5 linked regions of the Homo sapiens genome follow. The protein of the gene in region 1 interacts with the protein of each later gene in a pairwise test. Each region holds a gene or a part of one and is shown in the gene's direction. Other genes may lie near its edges. The genes, in order: TBC1D4, KATNIP, NAV1, ZMIZ1 and NFAT5.

What was found.
Region 2: the proteins of TBC1D4 (region 1) and KATNIP interact in a two-hybrid assay, tested with the Homo sapiens proteins (one large-scale study listed by IntAct).
Region 3: the proteins of TBC1D4 (region 1) and NAV1 interact in a two-hybrid assay, tested with the Homo sapiens proteins (one large-scale study listed by IntAct).
Region 4: the proteins of TBC1D4 (region 1) and ZMIZ1 interact in a two-hybrid assay, tested with the Homo sapiens proteins (one large-scale study listed by IntAct).
Region 5: the proteins of TBC1D4 (region 1) and NFAT5 interact in a two-hybrid assay, tested with the Homo sapiens proteins (one large-scale study listed by IntAct).

The regions. Positions count from the first base shown.
Region 1 is NC_000013.11:75,297,170-75,300,669, reverse strand, and holds part of TBC1D4 (TBC1 domain family member 4), read left to right. Parts: intron 1-1,095; coding exon 1,096-1,340; intron 1,341-3,500.
Region 2 is NC_000016.10:27,735,132-27,738,654, forward strand, and holds part of KATNIP (katanin-interacting protein), read left to right. Parts: intron 1-363; exon of another isoform or gene 364-459; intron 460-3,523. UniProt on the Homo sapiens protein: May influence the stability of microtubules (MT), possibly through interaction with the MT-severing katanin complex.
Region 3 is NC_000001.11:201,780,121-201,783,643, forward strand, and holds part of NAV1 (neuron navigator 1), read left to right. Parts: intron 1-300; coding exon 301-439; intron 440-891; coding exon 892-1,189; intron 1,190-2,055; coding exon 2,056-2,749; intron 2,750-3,285; coding exon 3,286-3,523. UniProt on the Homo sapiens protein: May be involved in neuronal migration.
Region 4 is NC_000010.11:79,295,964-79,299,486, forward strand, and holds part of ZMIZ1 (zinc finger MIZ domain-containing protein 1), read left to right. Parts: intron 1-507; coding exon 508-690; intron 691-1,649; coding exon 1,650-1,727; intron 1,728-2,442; coding exon 2,443-2,617; intron 2,618-3,086; coding exon 3,087-3,228; intron 3,229-3,523. UniProt on the Homo sapiens protein: Acts as a transcriptional coactivator. Increases ligand-dependent transcriptional activity of AR and promotes AR sumoylation. The stimulation of AR activity is dependent upon sumoylation.
Region 5 is NC_000016.10:69,691,464-69,694,986, forward strand, and holds part of NFAT5 (nuclear factor of activated T-cells 5), read left to right. Parts: intron 1-285; coding exon 286-2,776; intron 2,777-3,523. UniProt on the Homo sapiens protein: Transcription factor involved, among others, in the transcriptional regulation of osmoprotective and inflammatory genes. Binds the DNA consensus sequence 5'-[ACT][AG]TGGAAA[CAT]A[TA][ATC][CA][ATG][GT][GAC][CG][CT]-3'.

The DNA.
Region 1 (3,500 bases):
AAATTTTAAGTGAGAAAGTAAAACCATAATTTTAAAAATTGCTTATTTGGCTCTGCTTGTAGCCATCTGTGTTTCTTCAGCATGCAATTGTTATTTTCTCATATCTTCCTCTTACTGGCTCTGCAGAATTAATCTTATTGGTTCCTAGAAAAAAAAATCACTTTTAAGCATATGTGGGAGAAAACATTTTAAAACCTGGCACTCTTGCAAGTTCTAAATGACATGAGTAATCATTTCACAAGGAAGCTAACATCCCCCTTCATTTTTGTGGCCCTAGAAAAATGCCCATACCAATATAGACAGCTTTGATGTGAAGACGGATTTGTTTCTGTGTATAGAACTCTCCTTTTAGTGATGCAGGACTCACATTGCCAGCTCAAGTGTCTCTGTGGTAATTTTATACCTAGAGGTATATTTTAGAGGGGAATTTATTTGAAATTGACTTGACCCTTTATTTTCCTTGATATTTTTAGATATTGAAAAAGAAAAGTGGTTTACATGGCTCATGGAGGTATTTTAAGAGCAGAGAGCGAACGATAGTTGAAAAAGCAGTTTTCTTCTGAATGACAGTCTGAATGTAAAGTCAAACAAACCCAAAAAGTCCCTCCAGTGTCATAAGAAAAGCAGAAATAAACCTGTTTATAGACTATGAAGATTTTCTTTTAAATAATATAATATGTCTTACAGACTTCTGGTTTCATTTAGAAGGTAGTCTTTATATGAATTAGAATTTGCCTTGCTTTATAGTCAGAATAAAATTTATATTCCATTTTCCTGGTATTTCTCCTGGGTACATCATTGGTTTGTGGATTTTTATTGTATTTTTTTTTTTTTTTTTTTTTTTTTGCTGGAAAGAAGTACTGGTTAGCATAAAATGTTTCCTCCCATATCGTATATGTGAAGATGGTATGGTGGCCTGGCAGAACTTGGGGTGAGAGAGGGAGAGACTCTTAGTTACATGGTGACTCTAAGCAACTCTCACTGGTTTGGGAAAGAGTGTCTGTTTATTCTTGGAGGTCACTGAATTGCAATTTCACTGTTGTCTCCAAGGCATGAGGACATTTCAAAAAATATTTTCCTTCTTTTCCTCTGCAGGAAGGACGTTTCCTACTCACCCTTACTTTTCAGTACAGCTTGGGCCAGGACAGCTGTCACTGTTTAACCTCCTGAAAGCCTATTCTTTGCTGGACAAAGAAGTGGGATACTGTCAGGGGATCAGCTTTGTGGCTGGAGTCCTGCTTCTGCACATGAGTGAAGAGCAAGCCTTTGAAATGCTGAAATTCCTCATGTATGACCTCGGCTTCCGCAAGCAGTACAGACCTGACATGATGTCGCTGCAGGTGAGGCACTTGTGCTTCCCGAGGAAGGTGTGAGACTATTACCAGAAATCCTGGCCCTCTTCTCAATTATTACAGTTCAGATTTAAAGAAATGTAGAGCCATTGTCTTAGAACTTGGGTAAAGATTGGGGCATGTTTTAGTTCACTTAGTGTGGGATTTGCTATTTAGGTAAACTTCTAAGTGTATGAGACCCAGAGGCAGAATACCTTTTCCATAAAATTCCTGAAGTAAGTAAATAAGTAATTTAAGAAAGGTAGGTGATGAGGACCCAGTCCTTTATGCCCTAAGTCTATGGGTTACATGGAGAAGGTATCAAATCATCTTTATTCACTTTTTCTCAACTTCTCAGTTGAAAAGGCTCACAGATCTTTTGTTTACAATCTGAAAGTATCTTTATCCCTTTACTTTTGAGTACACAAATAGCAGATACCATGTTATGGTTCTTTTTGAACTTATCATTGATATCTCCCCTCCTTTATCTTCATGTAAGATAGGCCTTTACAGAGGAAAAAGTGTGAAAGCCAGTGGTGCCTTTTCAGTCTGCTTTGTGTGTGTGTGTGTGTATGTGTGTGTGTGTGTGATGGAATCTTGCTTTGTTGCCCAGGCTGGAGTGCAGTGGCACGATCTCGGCTCACTGCAATCTCTGCCTCCCGGGTTCAAGCCATTCTGCTGCCTCAGCCTCCCCAGTAGCTGGGATTACAGGCAGGTGCCACCATGCCTGGCTAATTTTTTTGTATTTCTAGTAGAGATGGGGTTTCACCATGTTGGCCAGGCTGGTGTTGAACTCCTGACCTCAGGTGATCCGCCCGCCTCAGCCTCCCAGAATGCTGGGATTACAGGCTTGAGCCACTGAGTCTGCTTTTCTTAGCAGGCTCTGAAGAAGCACCATTAAGATTTTCCAGGTATTTTGAGTGGGGTATTAACTGCCACTGCTGTCTTTAGCCTACCTCAGACTCCCTGTTTGCACATTTCTCTCCTAGTTTTCACTTCTCTAAGTGGGTTGGTTGCTAATAAGCAGTTTAAATTTTGTCTATAGATACTTAAACAACCACTGCCTGGCAATTTAAAGCTTTCAGTGGTTAAAAATATAAAAGAAGACTTTAAAGAGGATTCTCAGGTTTTTCCTCCCTTGAAATGAGGTATGCATGACTCCCAGTTCATCATAATACTGTGCTTTAGATAAGAAGTAATAGTTTAAAGATGCTTTTAAAATATACTATTTTTTTCTGTTTCCCAGAGATGAGTTTTTTGCCTTTAATATCTCAGTTGCCAATGTATAACAAAAGAATTGTATTTTTAGTCTGAGCGTTATAGTAAATGATATTTTTTGAGAGTATGAATGGAGATGAAGTATTCCATTTTTCTTTACTTTCTGAAGGTAAAATTTTGACTGGGGAGATAGGGCTTTGCTATCAACATTAGGTTTTCTGGTGTGAGTTCATATGATTTGATTCCTCATTGATGACTATTCGTAGGTTTAACAAGTCAAATAACAACTGTGGAAAGTTTTATTTTTTATTCCTAAAGAGTTTACCTGTATCTTTTTATCTTTTTATCGTTTTTTTTTTTTTTGGAGACGGAGTCTTGCTCTGTCACCCAGGCAGGAGTGCAGTGGCGCGATCTTGGCTCACTGCAACCTCCACCTCCTGGGTTCAAGTGATTCTCCTGCCTCAGCCTCCCGAGTAGCTGGGATTACAGGCATGCACTACCATACCCTGCTAAATTTTTTGTATTTTTAGTAGAGTTGGGGTTTCACTGTGTTGGGCAGGCTGGTCTCAAACTTCCGGACCTCAGGTGATCCACCTGCCTTGACCTCCCAAAGTGCTGGGATTACAGGCGTGACCCACTGTGCCTGGTCACCTGTATCTTAATATCAGATAGGAATCAGATGGTCTTGTAAGGAATTCAATAATTCTGATTTTCAGAAACAACGGTTTGGTAGCTATTATTAGAATTTCAAAGATACAGGGAAGTACCTGTGAGTAGTGTTTGATCTGGGTCCACAGATAAAAGGATAATAGCTATCAGTTTAAAAATACAATGATATTTCAACTTAAAAATTATTCATCAATTTGACATTACAAAAATTCATGTAAATCGGATTTATACATTCATTTAATATGGACTGTAAGTACCAAGAAGTATTTTATGTCTATAATT
Region 2 (3,523 bases), on another chromosome or scaffold:
GGCAGGGTACGACCCTCCCACCTCCCTGTGACCCCTGCATACCACTGATTTCCACCTGAGCCCACTCCTCTCTTACAAGCCTGACCCCTGCCTCCGCCTGCTTCCCTCTCTCAGTTCCCTCTCCGCCAGACGTCTTGGTGGGAACAGGGCTGGAGGTCAGATGGGCTCTGGACTGGGGAAGGAAGATGGGTGGCCATGTTGTGGAAGCCGGCCACCCTATTAGGAAAGCTAGGATGCCCACCTTGTGACTGTGCTGGACTAGATGGTTTCCCCATCACCCACTACCTCTTTAAAGGAAGGTGTTTCTGTCTCACCAGATATCCCTGTGGCAGTAATTTTGCAGAACCAGTCATTGAAAACTGCCCATGCTGTCCTTCTCAAATAGCTGTTCCCCGGTGAATTCACAGCACGCACTTGCTCTGTGCCTCTGCTAAACAGAGAATCCATCCATATAAGCAGGTAAAAGAGTGCTTTGAGAATCGACTTTTCTGACAGTCGGCAAATGGTAGCCTGCCATCTGCAATTGGAGGATTGAAGCCGAGTTCCTGTGGCGTAACGCAGGCCGGACAGTTCTCCTTCTAAATTGCTGCGGAAACCTCTGTAACTCAGTGATCCTGAAATTTGTTAGCTCCTACTCACCTAGCTTTCAGGAAGGCTAAGAAGGGGTTAGTATAGGTGAACATCTCCAGGGTCTCAGATTCTGTCTCCCAAGAGCAGATCAGAAGCCAAGGCAACACGGGAAATAAACGATCTGGAGGTGAAACCCACAGGCCGCCGCTTTTCTGATCAGGTTCATTCTTAGAGCACTGTTGAGACAGCAGTGCTGTTCAGGAGAGAAAACCCATGTTTATTCATTTGCTATTCCAAAGTAATTTATTTATTTATTTTGAGACGGAGCTTCACTGTCGTCACCCAGGCTGGAGTACAATGGCACGATCTCAGCTCACTGCAACCTCCCCCTCCCAGGTTCAAGTGATTCTCCTGCCTCAGCCTCCCGAGTAGCTGGGATTACAGGCTCACGCCATCATGCCTGGCTAATTTTTGTATTTTTAGTAGAGACGGGGTTTCATCATGTTGGCCAGACTGGTCTCGAACTCCTGACCTCAGGTGATCCATCCACCTCGGCCTACCAAAGTGTTGGGATTACAAGCATGAGCCACTGCGCCTGGCCCAAAAATAATTGTTGGGTGGCTACAATGTGCCCTTGGACAAGACGGGCAGGGCTTCAGCTGTCTTGGAGCCTAACTTTGAGTGGGAAAAACAATAAATAAGTTAAAAGCTGATAAGCAAGACCATTCAGAGACTAAAAGGAAATAAAACAGGGCAATAAGATAAAGAGGGGACCGATGAGGTGGGGCTGCCCTAGAGGTGTGTTCACTGAAGGTCCTGAACAGAAGAAGGAGCAAGGCTGTGGGCATCTGCGGCAGAACACGCCAGGCAAGTGCACAGGCTCTAAGGCAGGAGGAACAGGCTGAGCCACATCAAGGAATCGAGGCAAGCGCCAGGAGCCGGAGTCAGAGAGGTCAGCAGGCACCCCTGAAGGGGAGTAGGATTTCTTGTCAGTGCCATAGGAAGTCACTGGGCAGCTTTAAGCAGGAGGCTCCCATGATCTGATTTCAGTTGTTAAAAAAAGACTCACTGCTGTGTGGAAAATGAAGTGAGTGCAGGGTTTGGGGGAGACAGCCCAGAGTGGAGGCAGAGAGACCAACTAGGAGGCGATGGTGGTGTCTCTGGGGGAGACCCTGGTGGCCCAGGCAGCAGCACACGCGGGCAAGGAGGTCAGCTCCAGGGCGTGTTCTGGAGAGAGAGCCGAGGGACGTGCCCACATACTGGATATGAGTGAGAAAGTGAGAGGGGACGAGGGGACGGCAAGCTTTTTAGCAACCGCTCGAATGATGGACCCATTTTTAAGATAGTTTAAGACTAAGTGTGGAGAAAGTGATTTCAGAATTCTGTTTCAGGCACACCAGGCACATTGACTCACACCTGTAATCCCAGCACTTTGGGAGGCCAAGGCAGGAGGATCCCTTGAGCCCAGGGGCTCAAGACCAGCCTGGACAACATAGTGAGACCCCGTCTCTACAAAAAAAAATTTATTTTAATTAGCTGGTCGTGGTGACGTGTACCTGTAGTCCCAGCTATCCAGGATGCTGAGATGGGAGGGTCACTTGAGCCCAGAAATTCAGGTTGCAGTGAACCCTGATCGAGCCACTGTAACGCCAGCCTGGGCAACAGAGCAAGACCTTGTCTCTTAAAAAAAAAAGAGAGCATTCTGTTTTGGGCATTTTATATTGGAATTCCTGTTAGATATCCAGGAAGAGAGGCCAAGCAGTCACTTGGGGCTTGGTGGAGAGGTCAGGGTTGGAGATGAAAATAACTGGGAGCCTGGGACCTGAATGAGACCACCTGGAGAGCAAGGGAAGAGCACTCGGGAGGCCTAGGACTGAGCCCTGGGCAGCCTAGTCGTTCAAAGTGCAGCCGAAGAAAAGGAAGCAACCCAGGAGTCGGGCAGGCTCAGCCAGCGAGGCAGGAGGAAAGCCAGGTGGGTGCAGAGCCACACAAGCCCCAGGGAGGAAAGTCATCGCAAAGGAGGGGAAGCTGCCGAGTACTGCCGAGCCGCCACACCCACCCACTCCTAGGAGAAATTCCTATTGCGTATGGCAGTCAGCTGGACCCTGTAATTTACTTTAGGAACCAGACACTTCTGAGAGTCATTAGTAATGACACCAGGATAACAGATATAAATCAGAATTGTCCCAGACAAACTAGGATGGCCCGTCACCCTAGTTACAGGTGCCCGGGCCAGGTGGGTTCCATGTGGAGGTGGAGGCAGAAGCCCAACGGGAGGAGGAACAAGGGGTAGTGGGAGGAGGAGCCCACGGGGACAGTGACACTCAGAGATTCACTGACGGGGTGACGGACAGATCATGCGGGGGGCCCTGCAATGGAATATTCCTTAGCAGTAGAAAGGAAAGGAACTATCAGTTCCCATAACACAGGTGAATCTCAGAGCAGTTATGGTGACTGAAAGAGCCGAGCAAAAAAGACTACATGCAACATGATTCCTTTATGTAAACATTCCAGAAAGGACGATCAGTATATAGGGAGGGACCATAAGTGGGTGGTTGCCTGGAGCCAGGGAAGGAGGAAGGGGAGACAGGGGTTACCAAGGGGCACGAGGAAACCTTAGGGTGATAGGTACGTTTGTTCTCTTGAGTGTGATGGCTTCATTGGCGTAGACACATGTTAAAACTGATCAAGCTGTACCCGTTAAATATGCACAGTTTATTGTATGGGGTGTGTATTCTATTCCCCGATAAAGCTGGAAAAAGAGTTTTGCTGTAAAGAGGATGACACAAGTGAAACAGTAGCAGGAGATGTGATTTTATCTTAAGCATGGAAGGAAGAGAGTTGAACCTGCGTGACATAGGGGCATTTAGGCTGGCAGTGAGAGAGGAGAGCGAGGTGGGGACCATTTGTGAAGGTTACTGTATGTCATGTGGAGAGCTTTGGAATTTATCCC
Region 3 (3,523 bases), on another chromosome or scaffold:
AATTAGATTGATCCAAAAATTACCTTGCCTTTATAAAATACCTTTCTGTTAAGAAGATACAACGTTTTCTCTTGCCAGATAAAGGCAGAGTCTCTTCCTTTTGTAAAAGAACATCACCAAATTACAAGGAAGTTTAAGTCACACTTTGAGTTGCTGACAAACCTAGGACAAACCCCCAGGTTTTCTCCTTTTGGCTAGCCTATATACTGGTGCAGAGCCATTCTTGCATCAATGTGAAACATTTATTTTTTGCCTGGGCTTCTGTTTTAACGATTGACCTTCATCTCTCCTGTCCTGTAGCTGGGATGAAAGCAGCTCCATCAGTAGTGGACTCAGCGATGCCTCAGACAATCTCAGTTCAGAAGAATTCAATGCCAGCTCCTCACTCAACTCCCTCCCAAGTACTCCCACTGCTTCTCGCAGGAACTCAACAATAGTGGTACGTGAGTTTGCAAACACCCAAGCTGCCATCTCAAGATGAACCACAGGGCAAATGGCATTATCTGTGTATGGGGTTGCACGTACACACCCACTCCATGGGATTGGTTCTCATAGGCCTTTGGCCAGGTCATTTTAGAGTTGCCCCCACCCCCTCCCAAAAAAAGCTAAGGCTACTCACCCAAGACATTAGATGTTGTCATATTGTGTATACTTAGTGCCTACACCAATCTAGAGTGATACATGTAAGAGCTATTCCAACTGGAGAAAAAGAAACCCCGAGATATATGTCATCTGCTGTTGGAAACCCTAGGGGTATAGGTAGAAACCCTCAGTTTGACTTAATACTCTGAGATGAGCAGCGCCAGGTACTAACTAAAATCAATCCTGTCAGCTATCCAGTCTCCCATCTGCATAGAAGTATCTCACTCTGCCTTTTTCTCTTTTCTTTAGCTACGCACAGACTCAGAGAAGCGCTCACTGGCAGAAAGTGGGCTGAGCTGGTTTAGTGAATCAGAGGAGAAAGCCCCTAAAAAACTGGAGTACGACAGTGGTAGCCTGAAGATGGAACCTGGGACTTCTAAGTGGCGGAGGGAGCGGCCTGAGAGCTGTGATGATTCATCCAAGGGTGGAGAACTGAAAAAGCCCATCAGCCTGGGCCACCCTGGTTCCCTGAAGAAGGGCAAGACCCCACCTGTGGCTGTAACTTCCCCCATCACTCACACAGCCCAGAGTGCCCTCAAAGTCGCAGGTGAGCCTGGAATAAAGGAAGGTACAAGGGCAAAGACCTAGTTCTTTGGTTGCTCCTCTTCTTAGTGGTCATTAACCCATAGGATGATAGCAAACATTTGCATAGTGCTTTAACAGACATTATCTTATCTGGTCTAAGGACAGTCCCGTGAGTTAGGAAAGATGGGTGTTATTATTTCCATTTTACAAATGTGGAGGAAATAGAAACTCAAAGAGATTAAGTGGCTGGGCCAAAATCCCAGTTAATATGAGGTACAGGAGGAAGTATATTATGTTTAGAGACTAGTTTGGCCTCCTTCCAAACACTTCCAATGCTTGCTTTCTTCTTTCTCCCAAGTTAGTCACTCAAGGCACTTATTTTCATAGGATACAGCTTGACATCTCAGGAAGATCCTAAGAAAACAATAAATAAAATGGCTACAGCAAGAGAATTATAGTGCCCCCAAAGTTGGCCCCTTGGGTAACTTTTAGCCTTAATCAACATTTTCCTGTAGTCTCTAATTACTAAGAGATATTGTCATACTCTATTCCATTTGCTTCCCCACCTTTTTTTTCCCTTCCACAACTAGTTGTTAGATGGATATTCTTGATCATCTTTGTGTTTGCCTCTGCCTTTTTAATCAAAATGGACCATTCTACTCTGGGAGCAAAACAAAAAAAATTCCTAGCCTCCCCACCCCTCCCAGCCAGAGTCTTTCAGACAAGAAACTTTATCAGCTTATCTTGTACCTGTTTACCCAAATTTAGGCCTCTAAAAGTCTACAATACATGGACAATGTTCCCTTCTCCCATGGAGGGAAAGAAAAGGGTGGGTTTTTAAGATACTGGTCAGTTTCAGCTCTTTTCTCATTTCCCGTCCTCTTGCAGGCAAACCTGAGGGCAAAGCTACAGACAAGGGTAAGCTTGCAGTGAAGAATACTGGGCTCCAACGCTCCTCCTCTGATGCTGGTCGGGACCGCCTGAGTGATGCTAAGAAGCCCCCCTCGGGCATTGCTCGCCCCTCCACTTCGGGATCCTTTGGCTACAAGAAGCCTCCTCCTGCCACAGGCACAGCCACTGTCATGCAAACTGGTGGTTCAGCCACTCTCAGCAAGATCCAGAAGTCCTCAGGCATCCCTGTCAAGCCAGTAAATGGGCGCAAGACTAGCTTAGATGTTTCCAACAGTGCAGAGCCAGGATTCCTGGCTCCTGGAGCCCGTTCTAACATCCAGTACCGCAGCCTGCCCCGGCCAGCCAAGTCAAGTTCTATGAGCGTGACCGGCGGGCGGGGTGGACCTCGCCCTGTGAGCAGCAGCATTGACCCCAGTCTCCTCAGCACCAAGCAGGGAGGCCTTACGCCTTCCAGACTGAAGGAGCCTACCAAGGTAGCCAGTGGGCGGACCACTCCAGCCCCTGTCAATCAGACAGATCGGGAAAAGGAGAAGGCCAAAGCCAAGGCAGTGGCCTTGGACTCAGACAACATCTCCTTGAAGAGTATTGGCTCCCCAGAAAGTACTCCCAAGAACCAAGCAAGCCACCCCACAGCCACCAAGCTGGCAGAGCTGCCACCAACCCCTCTCAGGTACCCAATGTGGGCAGCCGCCTCCTTGTCTGTTTGCTTTGTCATTCTTTCGCATATCTCTGCCCTCCTTGGACTAGATGAGGCATGGCCTATCCACCGTTGTCTCTAGGCCTTTGCATGGCTCTTTCCCACCTCTCCCCCATATGCCAAGGTTCTGAAAGAATCTAGTTTCTGACAGTTCTGAAAGACTGAATCCCTCTTTCAAAACTTACCTCATTTGTACTATTCTCTGATCAATGCTTACCCTGTCTTCAGCACTTGTATGGGTGTTTTTACTGTTTATTTACACATATATACCTATTTGCATAAATTCACTTGTATCTCCCATGTGCATATGCTGGCCCCTTATCTAAGCTGAATGTGCCCCAAGTTGGGTATCAGATTTCCTTGCATTGTATTTCACAACAGCATTAGGATAAGCCTCTGTGCTTAGCAAATAGGCAGAAAACAAGACTGGATAGGATTTCTTTAAGGTCCTATCTGCCTCTCACTCTGTAATTCTATTATTCTAAATATTTCGTTTGATCTTCTCTCAGGGCCACAGCGAAGAGCTTTGTCAAACCACCCTCACTAGCCAATCTTGACAAGGTCAACTCCAACAGTCTGGATCTACCATCATCCAGTGATACCACCCATGCTTCAAAGGTCCCAGATCTGCATGCTACAAGCTCAGCATCTGGGGGCCCTCTCCCTTCCTGCTTCACCCCCAGTCCGGCACCCATCCTCAATATTAACTCAGCCAGCTTCTCCCAGGGCCTGGAGCTAATGAGTGGT
Region 4 (3,523 bases), on another chromosome or scaffold:
CCAGAACTGAACACTAGGTGTGTGTTCTGCTCTGAGGGGAGTACGAGGACAATGCCACCCAAGTTCAGCCTTGGAATGCAGGGGCACAGGGGGCTCCTTTCTGGAATTGCATCCTGTTGACTGTGTTCCTCTGTCACATTGGGGTACACATTGGGGAGCACAGCCCTAACCCAGGCACCAGGAGAGACACAAAGGTCGGGGGAGTTAGAATCAGGCCCCTCATAATGGTGTGAGCAAGAGGCTCTGAAAGTGTCCCTGGAGTTCAGGGGCACATGTGCTCCAGGAAGAACGGCCTCAAGGGGAGGTGGCCTATGATCTGGACAGGCAGAACAAAATGCCCCTGGATGTCAGGACGAGAAGGGGCCCAAAGCATTATCTGGTTTTGTGGGTGGGAAACAGCAGGAGCAAATGAGGAGAGGCGGGCCCCATCCCGTTGTTCAGGTGACCTGGCTATGTGACGTTGGCAACATTGAACGTGTTTCCCCTCTCCTTTCTCTCCCACCACAGCCCAACTATGGAAACCAGCAATATGGACCAAACAGCCAGTTCCCCACCCAGCCAGGCCAGTACCCAGCCCCCAACCCCCCGAGGCCACTCACCTCCCCCAACTACCCAGGACAGAGGATGCCCAGCCAGCCGAGCTCCGGGCAGTACCCGCCCCCCACGGTCAACATGGGGCAGTATTACAAGGTGAGTCCCAGCCTCGCCACCACCCACGGGGCCCCTTCCCTCCTAACCACCTCACTCCCCTAACTCCACCGGGATCACTCTGACCCTGCGTGTGTTTGCCCCAAGGACAGCGAGGGGTGGGTGATTTCTGAACGTCCCCATGTGTTCAGGGCGAAGTTCGGTGGCCAGAATGTCAGAGTGGCTTTTCTCAGTTCCTATTCTCATTCGTCTCGGATGATGGTTTTTTTTTCTCCTTTTCTTATTCACGGCACTCACAAAATAATAAAGGAAATATATTTTATTAAAAAAACACACATCCCCTGTATATATTAACATTTCATTCTAAACTTTGTATGTGCAGGTGGGCACTAACATGTTATAAAATTGTTATTACAGCTGTAACTTTGAATCTGTACCTTTTACTTAACATGACATAATAAGGATGATACTTACTGCTACTAGAGCCCCTGGGGTTTTTACTTTTAATGGCTGCCTAATATTCTGCTGAGATCACCATATCATATTTTATTATTCCTTCTGTTAGGTATTTGGGTTGCTTCTGATTTTTCACTTTAGAAATAACACTATGATGAGTATCTTCAGGCATATAGCCTTTCCTTTCCTTAGGATTATTTTCTTGGGAGTAAAGAAGACACTTTATTATTTTACATTTATTTGCCAAAAATCATGCTAATTTATTATGGCCATCTACCAAACAGGTTTACCGTTTTTGCTCCAACTTCAGCATACTAGGTGTTGCTATTTTTGTAACTTCTGCTAAATTAATAGCTAGGGACAGAGAGAGGCAAAATGCCGTCCCTGAGGTGTAGCTGTCCCGCCCTGCTCACTCAATATACCCAGCAGTGGATGGGCCCCTGTAGCATCCCCGTGCTCCTGGTAGATTTTACTGTCCAGAGGGAGAGCGGGCTTCTGATGGCTTTTCTGCCCCCCACTCAGTGTTGTTTATCTTGTTTTAATAGCCAGAACAGTTTAATGGACAAAATAACACGTTCTCGGGAAGCAGCTACAGTAACTACAGCCAAGGGAATGTCAACAGGGTATGTTCCAATTTAATTTACAAATTCTAAGCCACAGGGAGTTGTTGCCTCTAAAGGTTCTCACTGTTCCTGCTCCAGCCTCTCTGGACATTCAAAGGGGCCCATGGGTGGGGGTGCACTCCCTGGTCCCCTGTCCTGGGGACAGAGATGCTCAGGACTGAGAATCCACGGCTCCAGGTGGGGTGAGCCCCAGGGTAAAGTGTCAGCCTGGCTAGTCTTGAAAACAAGGAGAGGGAGAGGGGTTCCTGGGGAACCTGGGCCCCAGATTCTGCAGGCCCCGACTCCACCTGGGGACCCTGATGGGGTAGGCATAGAGGGTGTGGCCTTGAGTCGTGATGTGGGAAGCCCACCTGCTCGGGTGACAGGAGGCCTGGGCTTCATTCCCGCTGTCCTGTCCTCCAAGGGTTGTGCTGAGCAAGTCCCCAACCCTGAGCCTCTGTGTCCCCATTTATCACAGGGATGGGTAAGGGTCTCCACAGGCACCTGACACAGGAGCTCAGTGGTGAGACCCAGATGAAGGGTGGGGAGGCCCTTCCCAGGGCTGTCTTCTGAGCAGGACAGAGATCTGCGAGAGAGAAGAGTTTCCCTGGAGGAGGCTCTCCTCCCGAGGGGCATGGCTCCAGGCCCCTGGGATGAGTGCGGTGTATGTCCATAGCCATGGCCCCTTCTGTCTCCGTAATCCCATAACTCGTGCGTGTCTTTTCTTTCCCTCCAGCCTCCCAGGCCGGTTCCTGTGGCAAATTACCCCCACTCACCTGTTCCAGGGAACCCCACACCCCCCATGACCCCTGGGAGCAGCATCCCTCCATACCTGTCCCCCAGCCAAGACGTCAAACCACCCTTCCCGCCTGACATCAAGCCAAATATGAGCGCTCTGCCACCACCCCCAGGTGAGGGCCCTCCCTCCCTCTCTTGGCAGCTCCACCTGGGCCCCCCAGTGGGCCGGGAGCAGGGGCTTCGCAGTCAGGCTGCCTGGGGAGTGGGCATCAGAAGGGGCAGAGAGTTGAGAGCAGGTGAGATACCCAGGGGCACACTCAAGGCGGGGTAGGCAGCTCACAGACAGCCTTTCTTACTGCTGCCTGGGCGCCTGGAGGCTGGGAGGAAAATCTATACGCAGCCATGGAAGGATGCAAGGAGGCGGGTGGAAGAAGAGGGGATGAGTCGCTGGGGCGGGGCCGTGTAGAATCGAAGAAGCCATGACTCACTGGTGTGCCCTTGGACTGGCTATGTCTCTGGCCCTGTTTACACACCCCTGCCTTCCTCTGAGCATGCAGCCCAGGGTGAGCAAGTCCCACCTACAGCCCCAGAACCCATGGCAGCTGAGGCTTGTGGCTCACCCACCTCCTCTCCTCGCCCCAGCCAACCACAATGACGAGCTGCGGCTCACATTCCCTGTGCGGGATGGCGTGGTGCTGGAGCCCTTCCGCCTGGAGCACAACCTGGCGGTCAGCAACCATGTGTTCCACCTGCGGCCCACGGTCCACCAGACGCTGATGTGGAGGTGCGTGTCAGGGCAGGGGCGCCAGCCCAGGCGGGATGAAGGAGGTCCCCTGGGATGGCTTCCTTGGGCCCGAGTGGGGCCCTGGGCAGGGGGTAGCAGCATCTTCTGACACCTTCACGTGTTCAGCATCATTGACTGGGCCCTGTCCTGCGGTTGTCATGGGAAGTCTGCAGGTGCACAGGTAGATGAGCAGTCAAGGTGTCGTGGCCCAAGGGCAGGGAGCAGCTGTCACTCACCCCAGAGGAAAAGGTGGCTGGCTCAGACCTAGGCTGGGAAGCTGTGTATCCCATCTGAG
Region 5 (3,523 bases), on another chromosome or scaffold:
TGTGTTCTGATTACCCTTAATTCACCTAAGCATATCAATAGCCGATTATTCTACTTCCTTGTTTGACTATCTTTGCTTGTCGTACTTTTAAAAAATATATCTCAAGGAAAATGAGACATCATGTTATGGAGAATTGTAGTCCTGTACCTGTTTTCTAAATGATAATAATATAGAGTGGAAAGCTGGTCCTGCATATATTTTTAGAGCAATAGTGATTTTTGATGTATGTTACAAACTTGTTTAATGTTTATATATTCATAATATTTGGGGATTTTTATTTTTTAGACTACAAAGTCTGTTGGATCAACTCAGCAAACATTAGAAAACATCTCAAACATAGCAGGAAATGGCTCTTTTTCATCACCATCATCTTCCCACCTACCTTCTGAAAATGAAAAACAGCAGCAGATTCAGCCCAAGGCATACAACCCAGAGACCCTGACAACTATTCAAACCCAGGACATCTCACAGCCTGGTACTTTTCCAGCAGTTTCTGCTTCTAGTCAGCTGCCCAACAGCGATGCACTATTGCAGCAGGCTACACAGTTTCAGACAAGAGAAACTCAGTCTAGAGAGATATTACAGTCAGATGGTACAGTGGTTAATTTGTCACAACTGACTGAGGCATCACAACAACAGCAGCAGTCACCACTACAAGAACAAGCACAGACTTTACAGCAGCAGATTTCATCAAATATTTTTCCATCACCAAATAGTGTGAGTCAGCTTCAGAATACTATTCAGCAGCTGCAAGCAGGGAGTTTCACAGGCAGTACTGCTAGTGGCAGCAGTGGAAGTGTTGACTTGGTCCAACAAGTTTTAGAGGCACAGCAGCAGTTATCTTCAGTTTTATTTTCTGCTCCAGATGGTAATGAGAATGTTCAAGAGCAGCTTAGTGCAGATATTTTTCAACAAGTCAGTCAAATTCAGAGTGGTGTAAGCCCTGGAATGTTTTCCTCAACAGAGCCAACAGTCCATACCAGACCAGATAATTTATTACCTGGAAGAGCTGAAAGTGTTCATCCACAGTCTGAAAACACGTTATCTAATCAACAGCAGCAGCAGCAGCAGCAACAGCAAGTGATGGAATCTTCAGCCGCAATGGTGATGGAGATGCAACAGAGTATCTGCCAGGCAGCTGCCCAGATTCAGTCAGAGTTATTCCCTTCAACTGCTTCAGCAAATGGAAACCTTCAGCAATCGCCAGTTTACCAGCAGACTTCTCACATGATGAGTGCATTGTCTACCAATGAGGATATGCAAATGCAGTGTGAATTGTTTTCTTCTCCTCCTGCAGTTTCTGGAAATGAAACTTCTACAACTACCACACAGCAGGTTGCAACCCCTGGCACTACCATGTTTCAGACATCAAGTTCAGGAGATGGAGAAGAAACTGGAACACAAGCAAAACAGATTCAGAACAGTGTCTTTCAGACCATGGTCCAAATGCAACATAGTGGGGACAATCAACCTCAAGTTAACCTTTTTTCATCCACAAAAAGTATGATGAGTGTTCAGAATAGTGGTACCCAACAACAAGGTAATGGTTTATTCCAGCAAGGGAATGAGATGATGTCACTTCAATCTGGAAATTTTTTGCAGCAGTCTTCTCATTCACAGGCCCAACTTTTTCATCCTCAAAATCCTATTGCCGATGCTCAGAACCTTTCCCAGGAAACTCAAGGTTCTCTCTTTCATAGTCCAAATCCTATTGTCCACAGTCAGACTTCTACAACCTCCTCTGAACAAATGCAGCCTCCAATGTTTCACTCTCAAAGTACCATTGCTGTGTTACAGGGCTCTTCAGTTCCTCAAGACCAGCAGTCAACCAACATATTTCTTTCCCAGAGTCCCATGAATAATCTTCAGACTAACACAGTAGCCCAAGAAGCATTTTTTGCAGCACCGAACTCAATTTCTCCACTTCAGTCAACATCAAACAGTGAACAACAAGCTGCTTTCCAACAGCAAGCTCCAATATCACACATCCAGACTCCTATGCTTTCCCAAGAACAGGCACAACCCCCGCAGCAGGGTTTATTTCAGCCTCAGGTGGCCCTGGGCTCCCTTCCACCTAATCCAATGCCTCAAAGCCAACAAGGAACCATGTTCCAGTCACAGCACTCAATAGTTGCCATGCAGAGTAACTCTCCATCCCAGGAACAGCAGCAGCAGCAGCAACAGCAGCAGCAACAGCAGCAGCAACAACAACAGAGCATTTTATTCAGTAATCAGAATACCATGGCTACAATGGCGTCTCCAAAGCAACCACCACCAAACATGATATTCAACCCAAATCAAAATCCAATGGCTAATCAGGAGCAACAGAACCAGTCAATTTTTCACCAACAAAGTAACATGGCCCCAATGAATCAAGAGCAACAGCCCATGCAATTTCAGAGTCAGTCCACAGTTTCCTCACTTCAGAACCCAGGTCCTACCCAGTCGGAATCATCACAGACCCCCTTGTTCCATAGCTCTCCTCAGATTCAGTTGGTACAAGGGTCACCTAGTTCTCAAGAGCAGCAAGTAACTCTCTTCTTATCTCCAGCATCCATGTCTGCCTTGCAGACCAGTATAAATCAACAAGATATGCAACAGTCTCCTCTTTATTCCCCTCAGAACAACATGCCTGGAATTCAAGGAGCCACATCTTCGCCTCAACCACAGGCTACTTTATTTCACAACACAGCAGGAGGCACAATGAACCAACTGCAGAATTCTCCTGGCTCATCTCAGCAGACATCAGGAATGTTCTTATTTGGCATTCAAAATAGTAAGAAACTCTAATTTTTCATTACTTAATTGGTCATTATTATTATTAGAAGGAAGCAGAGTGCAGTGGTGCGATCTCAGCTCACTGCACCTGCACCCTCTGCCTCCCAGGTTCAGGTGATTCTCCTGCCTCAGCCTCCCAAGCAGCTGGGATTACAGGTGTGCACAACCACGCCCAGCTAATTTTTGTATTTTTGTTAGAGGCGGGGTTTCACCATGTTGGCCAGGCTGGTGTTGAATTTTTGACCTCAAGTGATCCGCTGGCCTCGGCCTCCCAAAGTGCTGGGATTACAGGCGTGAGCCACCACACCTGTCCTGTATAGTTGTTTTAAGAGTACAGATTGTAGTTAGAACTCTATCACCTATAGACTATAAGATCTTGTACAAGTTATTTGGCTTTTATGGGTCTCAATTCTCTCATTTAAAATGGTGATAATATTACATACTTTACATGGATTTGGGGAGGATTAAATATGGCAATGTATAAAAATGTGTGTTTGCCATTTTAAGCTATAAACTTAAAAGGAAAATGAAGTCAGAATGACAGATAATACCTTACCCAGTTGAAGTAAGTAGTTTCTAAGGAGGTAGAAACTCATCTTTAATGTTTATATACCAAGGAATTTATATAGGACTTTTGATATTTAAGCAAAGTTGTATTTTTAGACTGCTTAAAGGAAACCTAAGATGAATTCCAGTGCCAGTCTGTGAAAACCTTTTTCTTGGACTATCAGGTGCCTAACTTTTA